Regions from separate parts of the Homo sapiens genome. Here region 2 is linked to region 1. The links come from fine-mapping of genetic effects on gene expression. Tissue or cell type: tibial artery. Region 1 holds a variant in brackets; the other region holds the start of a gene. All regions are shown on one strand. Distances are from middle to middle.

Region 1 (8,105 bases):
TCAACACCGGCCTGACCAACATGGTGAAACCCCGACTCTACTAAAAATACAAAAACTAGCGGGACGTGGTGACGCATGCCTGTAGTCCCAACTACTCAGGAGGCTGAGACAGGAGAATCGCTTGAACCCAGGAGGCGGAGGTTGCAGTGAGCCGAAATCATGCCACTGTACTCTAGCCTGGCGACAGAGTGAGACTCAATCTCAAAAAAAAAAAAACTGCTGCTAGCTAATATTTAATGAGCATTTACTATGTGCTCAGTCTGACGTCAGTGCTTTACTCTCGTTCCACACAACAATCTTATGGCTAAGTAAAATCATTAACCCCATTTTTCTTATGAGAAAATTCAGGCTTAAATAGTTCAAGTAATATGTCCAGGGATATTTAAGTAAGTGGCAGAGCTGGGACATGGCTACAGAGTCTCCCATAATTATTTCATTTAAAAAAAGAAAGAGACAAACAGACTTACCCAACAGGTCTGGGAAACTTTTGTACCATCAAATCAGTATGTTCCTTAGAATTAACATGTTTGTTTTTCCAAGTGGGTAATGTGGTAAGCCACAAAGCACCAATTCTCTTATAACATTAGCGGTGTGTTTGACTTTTAAAAAACAAATTAGAATGTAAGTAGAGTCCTCATTCTCCTGGCCAATGTCATTTTTTTGTTTACAAAAGGGGTACAAAATTAAAATATTGGGGGTGTGGAATAATTATTCAGGTTCATTGCAAAACAGCAATCACCACCTCATTTTTCTCCACTGCTCGGCAAATGCAGTGGGGGTAAACCACCATGGCCCCCAAGCAAACTTAAAAGTAGAAACAATTTTGTTTGGGATATCTTTATGTTTGTATCTATAAGGATTTAACTCAGTTATTTTTCAAGCAAAAACATGAAACATCCCATTTTATTCCAAGTACAACAAATGTGTGAACCTTTACTGTGATTTTCTACTAACAGCAGTTCAGGGTATGAAGGAAAAGGAAGAGGACAAAGGGACAAGGGTGAGCCTAAGGAGTAGTAAAGACTGGACAAAGAGGCTAAAGGATGAAAGGCACAGGTGCAGAAAGTGGGGACTCCAAGGCACAAAGTGGGAGGAACGGCGAAGGTTTGGTAATCTCTGAATTAGCAGCAACCTCTCGCCATCCTTGGCTTCAGAACATCCACCAGCCACTGAAATATTATTAGCTCTTTCATCCGTATCCACTGATCTTCAATGAAATAGTAACAGTGAGGAGGTGCCACATGGTGACGGAGCAGCAATATCTTCAATCTACAGCATCATAGTCAGAACAATCCCATCACTGGATAGTTCCAGTGAAACCCACATCTCCCTCCACTCCAGTCAACCTACACCTTTCCAATAAAACTCAGGACCAAGTTTATCAATACCTAATTCTGCCTCATGCAATTACCTCACCTCCTACCTAAAATCTTAAATAAGCAGCCCCAAAAAAACTTTCTGCTCTCAAAATGATACGAGGCAAAGCTACTAAGAATGACTGCACAGGCAAATGAGTCGTGGTATGATTGATCACCTGCCCCCTAGAGCTTCTGTCCAATTAAGCTGGGTGGGCAGAGACTGATGGTACCAAAGGCAGAAGGACACCACCAGGCCTTCAGCCATGGGAAGAAAAGAGACAAGAGGCGGATCAAGGCTGCAACAGCTGTCCAGAAGCAAGCATGCACCCAAAGTTGAAATCAAAAGATTTGAGATAATTATAGGTCACTACCAACACCATAGAGTGAATATGTTCCTTCACCTGACAGACACATTTTGTCTTATTTGTAGTCAAAACAAATAGAGTAAAATGTAGAATTCTTCAGGCAGAGCAGCAAAACTCCTAACTGCATAATGTGATTAGGACCAAAATAAACCTATGACCCATATAAAAACACTGAAAACATAATCCAAAGAGGAAAGGATGCTGTATGTCATTTGCAAAAAGGAGAAGGCAAACTCACATGTTGTTCTGGACCTAATTTAGAAGCTCTTATTGCCAAAAACTATAATAAATTGTGAGCACACTGTCTTCTTTTCATACTGCCTTACCCTCTCAACTATAAATAATAATTTCATATAAGCTGCAACGGAAACGGCAGCAAAAGACATGGTCTCTACTTGCACAAGTCACTTGACCTCTCTAAACCCAGGTCTCCACCTGTAAAAAGAGATGGTTGCATTGGATGATCCACAAAGTAGAGTCACACTAATCAAATGTCTTCAGTTTTGAAATTCACACTTGATTGGCTCCCTTCGAGTCCTGGCCACATCATACCTGAGCTGCCCTTCCCCACCCAGGATCTTGTTGCATAGGGGGTTCAGCAGCAGCGAGCTACTGCACAGCGGGACATGCCAGCAACCACAGCTGCTATGGGGCAAGCCCAGCACACATAAAGGACAGGCAGAGGGTGCCTACAAGAGGAATGGCAAGTATGTTCTGCTGGATTTATTTATACTTTACGACCTGTCCACTACCAAAAGAATTCACTGGAGTCTGATATAAAAACACACGTCTGAAAAAAAATCAGATGTGTGAAAAACACCAAAAACCCCAACATGCACAGAAGGCACTTAAAATGAAGATCAAATTAAAAACTAGAAACTGTATGCATGTTTTCAGTGATCCTTTAGTCACTGGTAGTATGTCTACACAGATAAGCCTAAGGATAATTTCTTGTATCTAAGTAAGAAATGCCCTCTCCTTCAGGGAGAACACTCATCACAAAGTTTACTAAACCCAACACATAATAGGATCTGTTATAGTTATATTTCAAAGAAAAGGAGAAAGAGAAAGTTTTAAATTCCTGCACACAGGTATGCCAGAAAACAAGACCACAACTTGCTGGCTCTTTGGAGTAGCCAAAGTCTGGAAACTATGCAAATTTCCAGTGACAGTAAAATGGATAAATTATAGTATATTCACACAATGGATTACTATGCAGCAATAAAAATGAACAAACCAGTCATGCAAACAACAACATGGATCAATCTCACCAACACAGTGCTGAGCTAATAGCAAGAGCTAACTGATATGATAAATATACTTTTGGGGGGATTAAAATTATATTGGGAGTATGACTGAAGATAGCCATCTACCACACAGATTTAAATAGAAGATGAAAAAAATCAGAGAAACAGAAATAATAAAAATCTTAGCATTAAAATGGGCCTTAGATCTTCTCTAGCTAAGCAGCTTCATTTGACAGAGAAGGAAACAGAGTGTGTAGGGAGTTCCAAGGTTCACGTGCTCTTAATTCCTAGGTCTGTACCTTTGCCTCATACCTGCTCCTCTCCACAAAATGTTCCAGACTTACATTTCCGCTCTCCTTGGTGTAAGTGAGTTATATTTTTTTAAATGGCATTTTGCATATTTACTCTCTTCTGGGAAAGTTGAAAGTTTTCATTTTCCCAGTTTGTTAATTCCACACTCCAACAGGGTAAAGATAGAAACTGATTTAACTCTTCTCATTAGCAATGCCAATTATTTAGGAAGATAACTGTTGAATACTCACTTAAGGACTACTGAGAGATTAAATGCAATTTACCACTCTCGAAGTCTTTAACACTTCAATTACAATTACAACCTGACACAAAATTAATTTCCATGTTTTGAAATAATACACCAAACTAACTGATACAATTTCCCTTTCTTTCCCTCTGTCAAAAGTCAATGCCCATGAACTGCTAAAATAAAATCTCTTCTTACAGTATGTGAAGGTCACATTATATTTACATGCTAATGACCACTGTGAATTAATTACCACTCTTAATCAAACAAGCTCATCTGCCTAAAACAGGTTATAAAAGACCTTTGAGAGGGGAAAAAAGCACCGTATTAAAACTTTGTTCCCAACATGCCATACGTACTTGTAAAGGGAGACTCAGGATTTTTCTTAAGAGCATTAGACATTTGATCTTTTTAACAGAATTATACTTCACTGCCACAATGAAGAAAGTTTTATGGTTATTTTTTTCATAACACTACTGACATAATGACATCAGGTAAAACCTCATTCATAATGTATTCAAAAGTTTTGTTCACAAGTAATAAGAGCCTCTAGGAAATTAATTACCAACAAGAACTAAAAAAGCTGGAGGTGTTCGCATACTAGGCTAGTAGCCAACAAGCAACTGGTGACCAAAGTAAAGCAGCTAGGTACAGTGTGTGCTGTGCGCATATATTATGCAAAAACTAGAAAGTTGTGTCTTTCAAGTTATAGCAAAGCTAATGTTGAGGTTTCTGCCAACTCCTTGACAAGAATTTCTTTTGCTTTGGTTAGTAGAGGGCGGAGGGGTTAACTTGTAAGAGATCTGGAATATTCTCC[G/A]CCCTAGACTAAAGACAGAAATCAGTGTAACAGAGCCAGAGTCACAGCTCCAACACACAAGGCTACAGGCTTTTACACCATTTAATCTGCAGCTACAAAATGCCAAACAGGTTCTGAAAGGGTTTGCAATTCCATCAATATTTATTTAGCACCAATTTTGTGTAGAACTTCTTCTAGACCCTATCTGGATTGAAACCTAGAGAAGGATCTGGCATTTACTGAGTTGTCCATATGCCAGACACTCTGCTAGACCCTTTAGTATCTGTTACACCTCATTTTTCATCATCACTATCACCCTGCAGGGGAAGAATGATGGGCCATTTCACAAATGGGTAACTGGAGGTTAAGTGACTTGCCCTTAGCAAAAGGTAAAGGTCTACAAGGTTATGGGATACACTCCCTCCACTGTTCCAGCTGACCCCAGGCTATAAGACATTTCCCTGTCGAAACAGGAAGGAAATCCAACATTTACAACAGAGCAGAAAGTTCTAACACAAAGCAAAGGACACCAGCACTAGGAAGAGACAACGCATCACAGATGCTGAGCAGGAAAGCTATCACTTCCCACCTGGCAGGCAGGTGTTGGGAGGGACCACAAAAGAGGGATCACTGGAGCTGGCTTTGGGAAACAAGGTGGCCCTCAACATCTGGCAACAGGTAGACAGGCACAGCAAGCAAAGGAAAAGCACAGCAAAGGGCCTGCAAAGCAGTAAGGAGGGGGCTGTGGCTGGACCATGTCGGGAGAGATGGAGGATCTAGGTCATCATTGTGAGAAGGACTCAGCATGACCAGAGGCTCCTAAGGCAGGAAGGACAGCTGGAGCAAAGTGGAGAACTTGGGAATGCCTATGTAGCAGCTGCCACTTGGATGCATGAAAGGGGGATATTGAGAGATTAGAGGTCAGGGCACCAATCAAAGCTAACTAGAAGAAATTAGAATCCTTGAATCAGGAGGTCAGGAAAGCAGGCTTGAAGCAATTTTGTGACTGAAGAAATAAGTGCTGGAAGAGGAGGATTTAAGACTAGAGTTCAGTTTTGCAAGCCAGATGAATGGGAAACAGATACTGTTACCAATCCAAACAGGAGAGGGAAGTCTTGAAGATGCCCAAAACATCCTGACCCAAACCAGCAGAGCAGCATGGAGGATTTGTGTAGGATGGTTCTCCTTCCAAGAAACTGGAACACACTGTGGACAAATAACATCTGGACAAACAGCCACTCATTTCACTGACTTACTTCAATGCAAGGGTAACCCATGAATTTTTTTATGGTTGGCTCTATGTCTGTCAAACTAATGTCATTACAGAACCTCAAATACCATCCATGAGAAGAAAGAAAATGTACACTCGGAAAGAGCACATCATGTCTCTCAGCAATTACCATCTAAATTTTTTAAGTCTACTATAAGTATCTTAAAGGGCAAGACAGAGTGGTCTATTTAGTTATGAGTAGCCTCTACAGCAATTTAAGTTTCTGTGGGACTTTGGGTGACTTCTTAGAGTTACTATGCTACTTAGGATCAATATGTTATCCAGAATGGGGGAAAGGTTAAACAAAGAAAGGAAGGGAAATAATTTTCCACTAAGAGAGAGCAGATTTCTGAACCGAGAGGTCCAGAAGTGAGCCTCTTCTGAGAATAGACAACCGACTCAGTCAGAGGGCCCAAGAAATGATGTAGTAATTTCACCATTAAAAGACTAACATTCCCCATTCCTGTGGCAGATCCAAACCACACAAAAAGATGCTGAGGGGCTCTAGAGTCTGTCATGTGGCAAAAGTGTAAAAAACATCATCCAAAGTATACTAAGCTTAGACTTTTCTGCTTCCAGCTGTGACCCAGGACAGCAGCTGGGTGGGCAAAGCAACTTTGTGACTGAAGAAGTAAGTGCTGGAAGAGGAGTATTTAGGACTAGAGTTGAGTTTTGCAAGCCTCCTGAGTGCACTGACCAGGACTAGACACCAGGGCACGGCAAGGGAGCATTTCAGGCACAGGTGCAAAATCGACCAGGGTTACTGCTGGGTTTTGAGAGTGTCTTCTCAGAAAAACACCCAGAAGAGATCATCTGAAGGCAAGTTAAACACCGATTTTTGTTTTAACTAAAGGCAAGAAATTCAGAAAAATGGGGTCACTCATTCCACTCTAGCTCAAAAGAATGGTTTAAACATAAATGATCTCATCCTGAGTTAGATATACCAATCTCTAGAAATTTCAAAATAACTAAGGAAATTGGGGTCAATCCTCAAAATTCAGGGGTGAACTCCATGAAGCATACCGCTTACTCCCAGAAACATCCCTCTGTCAGTGGCAGAAAGGACTCCGCTTCTCACGCTGGGGGTGGGGTGGGGAGGGAGACTCCCCCAGGGCCTACAGCAGGTAGGGGAGCTGCAAGATGAACATGGCACCTCTTCCAGGCAAGTCAACCCTCCTCTAACATTTGCGAAGAAAAGTAGCATTTTAACATAAAAACAAATAAAATGCACTATGGGATAGAATGTGAAATCCAAGTATTTTTGAGAAAAAAAGGGAGAATTCAAAGAAATTTTCACAAGACTACAGTGGGCAATTTGGAGCTAGACCCAGCTGTTTTGAGGACAGGTGTTGAATTTTCATGGAAAAGTATGGAGTCATTCTTATATACTCCTCAGCTCTTCAACTTAGAAACATTCCTAAACATAAAAAAACACACTAATAGACTCATCGGAAGCCCGTATATTTTACCACGTTCATATGTCATTAATAACAAGTGCTGCTAATAGCTGTTTTGCCATGCCCTGATCATCCTAGTTCAGCCTTATCAAAACAGCTTGAAACAGTACAACCACAGGAGGGGTCAATGTCTGGAGGTCACTCCATAGTGAAGACAGAAAGACGACTTAGCTGTAGAGCCTAGCATTGGGTGAGATATGAACAGCACAAAATAAATAATCAAGCCACTAATATTGTAAGACGTTCTTGTCAAAATGCTTTCGAATTGTACTTGGGGCCAAAGGACAATCTTTGTGTCTTAACTTTTACACTTCATTCCAGATACAATTCTTTTCCTAGACTTAGGAAGAGCATGTGGTATCACTCTATAGCACGTAACTGGATTCTCTGGGGGTTGTCTTCTTTCACATACATAAAAACACATTCTATTAATTCTCAGAGAGTCATTCCAAGGACCTGGAGGCACTGGGGGCAGGCAGGGCAGAGAAAGGGCACTGCTTGGTGCCCAGGCACTCACTGTCTCTCCTGCAAGGTCAGCAAACCCTCAGTCACCTGCCACAGCATCGCCCTGGAGCAGGCAAAACATCACCATGCATGAATTAGTGGGGATAAAAGAACAGAGGCTCCATAGGGGCTCCCAAATTACAATACCCATAACTTACACATTAAATGACATGCTAAGCCATAGGCCCAGCTCAAAGTAGTATGTTTTACTATGTGTTGGGCAAGATTTAAATATGATACATATATTATCATCATATACCTATTTCTATGCCATCTCATCATCTAAATTATCTCAACTACTGCATAAGGTAAGCACCATTTTACAGCTTAAGGAACTGAAGCTCAGAATGATGAAATGATTTGCACAAAGCTACTAAGCGACACCCAAGCCTAGCTGATCCCAAAGCCCAGGGCCCCACCCTCTGGTTCACCACTCAAGAGCCACCACTTCAGAACCCTTCTCCAGGGCCCCTGAGGAAAATGGCATGCTCTGGTGGGTGCCCAGTGCTGACCCAAAGGGGCTGGCAGCACCTGTCATGAGAAGGGAAGCTGAACACGAGCCATTTGGGG
Region 2 (8,105 bases), 120 kb after region 1:
AAGCTTCTCTTTTTTATTATGTAAGGTTTAACATGTATAAAATATATGTGGCATATACATAGTTACAAAGCATAACGCTAAAATGCATAAATACCTATTTAGATGCATAGTTTTTTTCTGAGCATAGTTGGTAAAAATTTATATCATTCACCACCTGTAATCGTCCTTTACTGCTCTAGAGAACTAACGATGTTCTGGGAGTGAGGGGTGAAGGAGGGGAAATCAGGTTAATTTTGAGAGAGAAAAGACAGATATTGACTAGAAAATAACATACTCACCTCTTCCTAAACCCTAATTTCACTTAAAAATACTCTAGGGAACAGTGTTTGGAAAAACCTGAATGAGTCAGCAGTAGATGAGTTCAAAACACATATATAGCCTATGCCTGTACAGAATATCCCTAGTAACTCATTCAACAGGGTCAAGTTGTTAAAAGTTCGCTTTCTCTTTCGAGGTAGAAGCTCCACATCAATGCCAAAAAGAGAGACCCTCTAATACTCTTTGGAATCTCCCTGATAACTTAAATGGTTACAAAGGCAGAGAGAAACCAGTGGCTTCCCCAATATGAAGAGACCTGTTTCTGTGATTAAGGTGCTCCCTCTAAGACTGGAAACTTAAAACGGATTGAGGCTTTCTGCAACTGATTTCTCTTCTAAATTAGCTATGCTAATTTTGGAAAAATATATCTTGGGCTCTGGGTGTTTTCCACTATTCTAGTGCTCAATGAAAAAAAAAAGGCATTCGTGTAGGCATCCCTCTTCTCTCAAGACCACTTGTCACACCCACCGCCATCCTCTGATTTTGCATAGAGGTCCCAAATAAGCAATCAAGGTAGGTAAAATCTTGGCTGACATTCATATCGGAGTCACTTTTGCAGGCGCTTCATGAAATGAATCAGGGAAAGAGCTGCCTAACACCTAACATCTCCAGGCACATCTCCCACAGGAAAGCCTCTCCCCTCCCTCTGCACACCTAACCCCCAACCCCAGAGGTTTCTGTGGTCCCTTCTAGCCTCTTCAGTGAAGAAGACCGGAAGTGCCGACAAAACCTCAATACTATGACATCATTTCGGTAACACTCCAAGGAGAACACGTTCCTGCAATTGGCTGCCTGTAGGTTGGCAAACACGCCCGTGCCCTGTCCCATCACAAAGCAGAGGTCACAGTCTACTTCAAAAGTAAAGATTCCCCACTCCCGCTTCCCCCTCACTCCAGAGAGGTCGCTGCCTCCAAGCTCTGGAGAAGGGAGGTCAGCGTGCAACCTTACAATGCCACAGCTTAACACACCCAGGTATTATTAATGGAAAAGTAAGTGGTACTTACAGCACCAGGGCAATTTACGTGTATTTTGGGGACCACTTCTCCAAGACATCATCCCTACCCAACCGTCTTTAATTATGTCTTTGACAACGCCAACACTTCAGTTCATTCCTCTCTCATCTTCTGGAAAGAACCAGAAGTTTTCACTATGAGACACAGGAATTCTGGCCTAAGTTGTCCCAGCTCTTCAAGGACAGCAAGAATCCAAGTTTCCCCACGCGTCACCTGAAGCCCCAACTTCTGGAAACGCCCTCCTTTCCTCGCCTCTACGAGCTGCGAGAGCAGAACACGCAGCCGCGGGCGCTACTGCTGTCGCCGCTAAAGCCAAAGAGGCGACTGGAAGCTCAGGCTGTTCGGCGGCCTCGGGGCGACCACAGGCCAGGCCCTGGTCCTGATCCACGAACCAAGGCGCCTCCTCTCCCCCAGGAAGTGAGCTACTGCGCCCCTCGGAGCACCCAGGCGAGCCCGGGCACCGGGAGAACGCTCTACACTCGGCGCCCAGCCCCGGGACGCCGCCCAGCGCACGGCTCCGGCTGAGCACCCGGGCAGCGGTAGCTGCGGGGAAGAGGGGCGTGTTCCCTGAGCCTCGGAGCCCCAAGGCCGGGTCCAGGCGGGACAGAGGAAGGCGGCAAGCCCAGCACGCTGTCCGTGACGGCGGCTCTCGTTCCCAAGCCCCGCCGGCTGGCGTGGCGACGCGCTGTAGTCCGCGCGCCCTTGCGGGGACAGCAGTCGTGCGCGCCTTGTGCGGCCGCCTCCGCGCCTGCCTCGGCGCGCAAACTTTCCCGGCGACAACCGATCAGGCCTCTCCGACTGGGGCGCGGGGCTCTCCCCGGGACCCAGAAACTGCTCGCCCCCTCCCCTCCGCAGTCAAGACCCACTGAAAATATGGCGCCCTCGAAAGTCGTTCCTCGGTCCCCTCAGGGATCCCGAAATACTCGTCTCCAGGTCCCTCCAGCTTCCAATGGGCGCAAAATTTCAGCTCGTGGGACCGAGGAAGGAGAGGGAGCCGCTGAGTCTGTGTGAGGCCAGCCGCACTGGATGCAAAGCCTGGCCCCGCTCTCGGCCCGGCACTGCCCCCGTCGCTCAGCGGCCAGCAGTTCGCCCGTGGCGAGATTGCCAAGTAAAGGGCAGTCGTGGGATCGGCAGGTCTGAGTGTCCGGCACCGGAGAAGGAACTCCGCACTGGCGGGCTGTCTTAGCCCAGAGCCTCGGCGGGAGACTTGTTTGCAAAGTGGCGCTGGAGTCCCGGCGGCCAGTGCTGGAATGAAGCTGCTCCTCCAGCGCCAACTCTTCTGGCGCGGGGGCCCGGCTGGGGTCGAGGGGACACTCTATGCAGGCGGGGCCGCTTTTCAAAGCCCAGTTACCGGAAACCCAGCGAGAGCCCCGGAGGGGACCGGCTGCCCACGGCCAGGAATCCGCTCTCTGGCGCCGACTGCGAGGCTGTTTGCAAACCGCTGCGCCCGGGTCCGGTGCAGTGAAACATACATGTGCAATAGACAGGTGCATTAATTTCATTTTATTTTTATTTTCCTGCAAGAAGCCCTCCTAGACCATCAAATCTGGGAGCTTTACGGGTTTTTCCTGCATTGGCATCACTCACGAGAAGCAAAAGGGAGGAAAAAAAACCCCACATTTTCCTTCTGGAGAGGGGAGGGAAAAGACACGAGAAATTCATGCAACGTGCATGCAGCTGGAGGAAGAGGAAAACCCGAGTGAGCCGTGCGCCTTACCGGGGGATGCATTTACTGTCTCATTGCAGAGCGCCTGCCCGGGAGTGCAGCCCGCGTCCCCCCGCGCGCTGGGCGACCACTCCGCTCCCGCAGCCGCCTCAGCCGCTGCCGCCGCCGCTGGCTCCGGGCGCGGAACAAGAGCCGAGGGCGAGCGCGAGCGCACTGCCCGAGAGCGCTGGGAGGGCAGGAAGCGCGTCATCATTCGGGGACGGCGCGGCGCCGGTCCGGCCGCGGCGCCGCGCGGCACCGGGGTGGGCCGCCACCGAGGCTCAGGCGCCCGTCCTGGGTTTCCTCCCACGCGTGGTGATGCTGAAAGGGTCCGCGAGGGAAGGTGATGCACCGGCCGAGCTGTCACGGGGAAGGGAGGCTCGGGGTGACCCCGGCTTCCCAGAATTGGGGCTCTGCTGTGTAAAGGGGATGACTGCAGGACACAGCGTCTTGTAGGCTGGGGCCCCTAGGTCCGCAGAGTGCCCTCTCGGGACCTCTGGCCCGGTCCTGGGGGAAGCGAGCTGTGGCTAACTGGAGGGCCGTGGTGGGCGGTGGGGTCTTGCTGCGAAGCGGAGGGCCGTGACCCCAGGCGAGCCTGCTCCTTTCAGCACAAGGACCCTGAAACCTTGCTGGTCAGGTGTCACTTAGGTATTTAGAGAACGACTATAGGGATGAGTGGCGGTAGGGGCGTGCTGTGTTGATAAGAAGAAAATAATTCACTCCTGCTTGCCATGCCCTGAATAAAGTCAGTTATATACCTCTTACATTTACAGTCATTATTAGTAAATACTGTAAATACCATGGAACAATGTGAAGGTTATTCAAGGGGGTGAGGAGACAAAACACTATGTACCGTATGGTCCCGTTTTTAAAAACTGTGATTTATGGAGAAAGGCAGAAAAGACTGGATAGATAAACACCAATAAGTCTCTCAGTGATTGGTGGAATTGTGAGTAATTTTACTTTTTTATTTATCTGTAAGGGACACATTAGTAATTTAAAAAAACAAGAATTAGCCATGACCCCTTTACTCCTAGTACTTTGGGAGGCCAAAGCAGGAAGATCTCAAGCCCAAGGAGTTTAAGATCGGCCTGGGCAATATAGCGAGACCTTATCTCTACAAAAAAAATTAAAAATCAGCCGGGTGTGGGGGCGCATGCCTGTAGTCCCAGTTACTGGGGAGAATGGTGGGAGGATCGCTTGAGCCCGGGAGCTCGGGGGCTGCATGAGCGGTGATCCTACCACTGCACTCCAGCCTGGATGACAGAGCGGGACTCTGTCTCAAAAAAGAAAAAAAAAAGGAAAGACGACATTATTTCCATCCCAATACAGAATGGACCAGGAAATAGGTAGCAAATCTATTCAGTTACTCAAATGGAACTGCTGGCAACTTTTTAGTGTTTCTCAGAGAAAGAAACTGCTGTCACCATAAACCGGAGACTGAATTGATTTTGTAAATTGAAATTATTTTGAATAAGTCCGTTGGAACATTGGATAAGGCTGGACATTCTGTGAGAACAATACCCTGTCCTTAACCAGGCTGATGAACCGGACTGTATGTATCATAGCAGCAAAGATAACCTTAGGGTACAACTTTGTAACTTATTGCAGAATATAAACTGTAAAGCTAACAAAGTATACATTATCAATGCACAGTGAGAGAACCAATTACTTGGCAACTTGAGAAAGTCCTAAAAATTGCAGGGCACAATTTCTCATTGTACAGGTAAAGTATTTTTGTTCACCACGCCTTTTTAAACATTCACCAGTCTCACAGAATAACTAGTGGTGGCAACAAGCCACCTCAGGGGTTGATTAAAAAGTACATGTTTATTGATTTCTGTATGAGCCTGGTAATAAGCTCACTAAATTAATGCCACCTAAATTGTTCCTTGGTTTACTAACAAAGAATAACCATATTTTTATGGTCCAAATGCCAGGTTTACATAAGAGGCTCATCAAGAAGGAAAGGAAAAAATGGTTGCAACTTAAGTGATTTTCCCCTTCCACTTAGTCCTCCGTTCATAGGGCCCAATAGCTTCCTATCAAGCATCTCAAAATCTTTCTGACACCTGGATTTCAAGATTTTCCATTACTTAATGCATCCTCTTGAAAGTATCCCCACACTTTTCCACTACCCATCAGCGGGATGCCATTCAGTAATGGAAGCTACATTCCATGAGAGCAAGAACCTCATCTGTATCTCTGTGCCTGAAGGAGCCTGACACATAGTATTTAATAAGTACTCAATAAAAATCTGCTTTATGAAAATAGCCTTATTTGTTCACTACCTATCTTACTAGTTCCTGAGATATTTGAAAAGTTATCTATTCTATTAGAGTGTCAGCAAAATTCTGGGATGCTGAGATCCTGTAGAGTTATAGCCTTGGTTTGGTTCAGTTACTTTTCAAAGTTCCAGCTAAATCCTAAGGCATTCACAAGGGTGAGGTGCAGGTGTCTGAATATTTGGGCATTAATAAGCCAGATAGCACTATTCTGTGGCTTTCCAAGGTCAATTAAATTCTTTCCCCCAGTGAGAAAGAACATCAGCCTTAGAACTCAGCTTTAGTTCTAGCTTCAAACCAATTGGCTTTGGACACTTCTTAATTTTACAGCTCCTGGTTTTTCTAACCACTCTTAGGGCTCTAAAAACCATTTACTGTTTTTTTAGAGAAATCAACTAACCATTCTACGTCCTAGCATTATATTTTTCAAAAATTTCCCCAGTAGAAGTAAAAGCAATTTTACCAGTAACCTTTACTAACTTTTCTGAAATTGAGATGCCTCCCTAGACCTAAAAAAAGTTATTTCTAAATTTAGAGTCAGCTACTAGTAGTCGCTGTCTTTATTCAGAGTGATCATAGTTCATTGTAGACCAGCAAAAAAAAACTAAAAAAACAAAATCTAACTTTTTTTAACAAGATTACATTTTGGGGCTTCGTCTCTACCCAGCAGAGGAAAACAGGGTGGGAGATAAAACATTCCATCTAAGCAATTTCTCAAGCCTTACAGCCTCTTACTTCTGCCCAGCAGATCTTAAGTAGCAAAATAAATACACTTTGTATGAATAAAGAGTGGAACATTTGGGGAGGTAAGTCAAAGAGATAGCTTCCAAGTCACTTGTAATAAATATATCTGGAACGAAAAACCATTTTCTTCACAAGTCAGATTTGTAATTACCAAATTAGACATTGCTTGGTGCTAAAGAGCTGGATGCTGAGAGATTGCCCCTCTCCTCCCATTGCACTGAGCCTTAACCTCCTGAATTCCTGTTGAGCACTTGTAGGTATCTGGGGTGGCTTTGCTCAGCTTTCATAGCTGAGCAAACTCAACTGTGTCCATGTTGAAAAAATAAAAGAAATTCCACCAAATATTTTGTTATACTTTATTTATAAGAGAATATTTTGTGCCATAATAAAATATTTTAAAGGGCTCCCTTGATACAATACACCAACAGTTCATGATTTCCTCTCTTTCAAAAATGTTTGTATCCTTTCCTGAGAGCAAGGTAGGTAGGAACCACATTTTCTCAAAATTGTCCATCATTCAGAACCAGAGATGAAAAGAAGATACTTAGGCTTCTTTTGTAATTTGATATCTTTAGGTTTCTAGAAATCTCTCTACCTCTTTTCTGATAAGTTTTAGGAGAGTATATTAACCAAAAATTACAGGAGGAAATATTATCTGAGTTGTAGTACAGCATATAGTTCATAAGTTATTTTTAATTTATTTGAAAAGCAAATATTTGACATTTTGCAAAAATTAATATATTTTAGCTTTTTAGTTATCTCAAAGCATAGGACCTCATTTCATTTCTAACTATTCAGGATAGCATGACAGATACAGATTTAAATGTCCTATTTAAAAGAGGAAATTGGGCTGAGCATGATGGCTCATGCTTGCAATCCTAGCACTTTGAGAGGCCAAGATGGGAGGATTGCATGAGGCCAGGAGATCGAGACCAGCCTGGTCAACATAACAAGACCTTACCTCTTTTTTTTTTTTTTTTTTTTTTTTAAGAAAAAAAGAGGCTGGGCACGGTGGCTCACACCTGTAACCCCAGCACTTTGGGAGGCCAAGGCAGGCGGATCACGTGAGATCAAGAGTTCAAGACCAGCTTCACCAACATAGGGAAACCCCGTCTCTATTTTTAAAAATGCAAAAATTAGCTGGGTGCATTGGCACATGCCTCTAATCCCAGCTACTTGGGAGGCTGAGGCAGGAGAATCTCTTAAATTCGAGAGGTAGAAGTTCCTGTGAGCAAGATGGTGCTGCTATACTCCAGCCTGGGCGACAGAGCAAGACTCCGTCTCAAAAAAAAAAAAAAAAAGAAAAGAAAGAAAAAAAATAAAAAGAAAAGAGGAAATTGCTCCGATAGATTCAGGAAATGGTAATCATCATACCCAATGCAGAACATGCTTGACATTAATTTTTCTTCTACAGCATATAAAACATACTAAAAAGGTTCTTTAAATGTCTCTGAAGCAACATACTGTCTAGAAGAATATAATACCAGTAATTATTTTCCTAAGTTGAATTGATCCTTAATCCAAATCAAATCGTTAATATAGAGTGAATAGTATAGGAGGCAGAATGTTTTTTCTTTTGGCTGCTTGCTTGCTGATTTAAGATGTGTTTGGAGTTATACTGTGATTAAAAATCTTTTAAAAGTACTTTATTGTGTATCATCAAAATTGCTTTATTAAGTATGTGTCATTTAAGTCTCTGGTCACTTGGAATTTTTTTAAGGTTATGGATAAATATGTTTTCATGAAATTGTTCCATAATATCAAGATACAGTAGAAAGACTTTTAAACAAAAAAGTGTTTTAAAAATCTGTTATCACAGACCGTTGCGCCGCCCGCCCCCCGCCCACGTTTCACTAAAATATGTTAGCTAAGATTGGTCTTTGGGGCTCTGGAGATTTTTTATTTATTTATAGGTGCCACAGAACTCTTTTAAAAAAAATTTGTTTAGGGATTAGACCAATTTTAATTTTAAAATAGTATATTTATTGTCATCTAGGAAATATTATTCTAGGTCTTCCTCAGATGGAATGGATTTGTTCT

Which allele goes with the higher level. Positions count from the first base shown, and alleles are read on the strand shown. Sizes are in standard deviations (SD) of each study's normalised expression.
With allele G in place of A in region 1, the expression in tibial artery of the gene that starts at base 3,184 in region 2 is lower (small effect, 0.28 SD a copy in GTEx).

What was found. PIP is the estimated chance that this variant, and not a neighbour inherited with it, causes the effect.
Region 2: it holds the start of TLN2, and the variant in region 1 is fine-mapped to the expression of TLN2 in tibial artery (GTEx, PIP above 0.99). The same link has a PIP of 0.9 or more in subcutaneous fat.

Annotation. Positions count from the first base shown.
Region 1 is chr15:62,510,156-62,518,260 of GRCh38, reverse strand. The region is part of intron 1 of TLN2 (talin 2); the gene reads right to left. Among named protein-coding and RNA genes, the nearest start is that of TLN2, 120 kb to the right of the region's middle. The variant G/A (reference allele first, on the strand shown) is at 4,326.
Region 2 is chr15:62,385,629-62,393,733 of GRCh38, reverse strand. TLN2 (talin 2) reads right to left here and starts at 3,184. Exons shown (of 59, transcript NM_015059.3): 1 at 3,049-3,184. RefSeq lists enhancers at 2,162-2,776, 3,695-3,764 and silencers at 2,955-3,284, 3,332-3,528.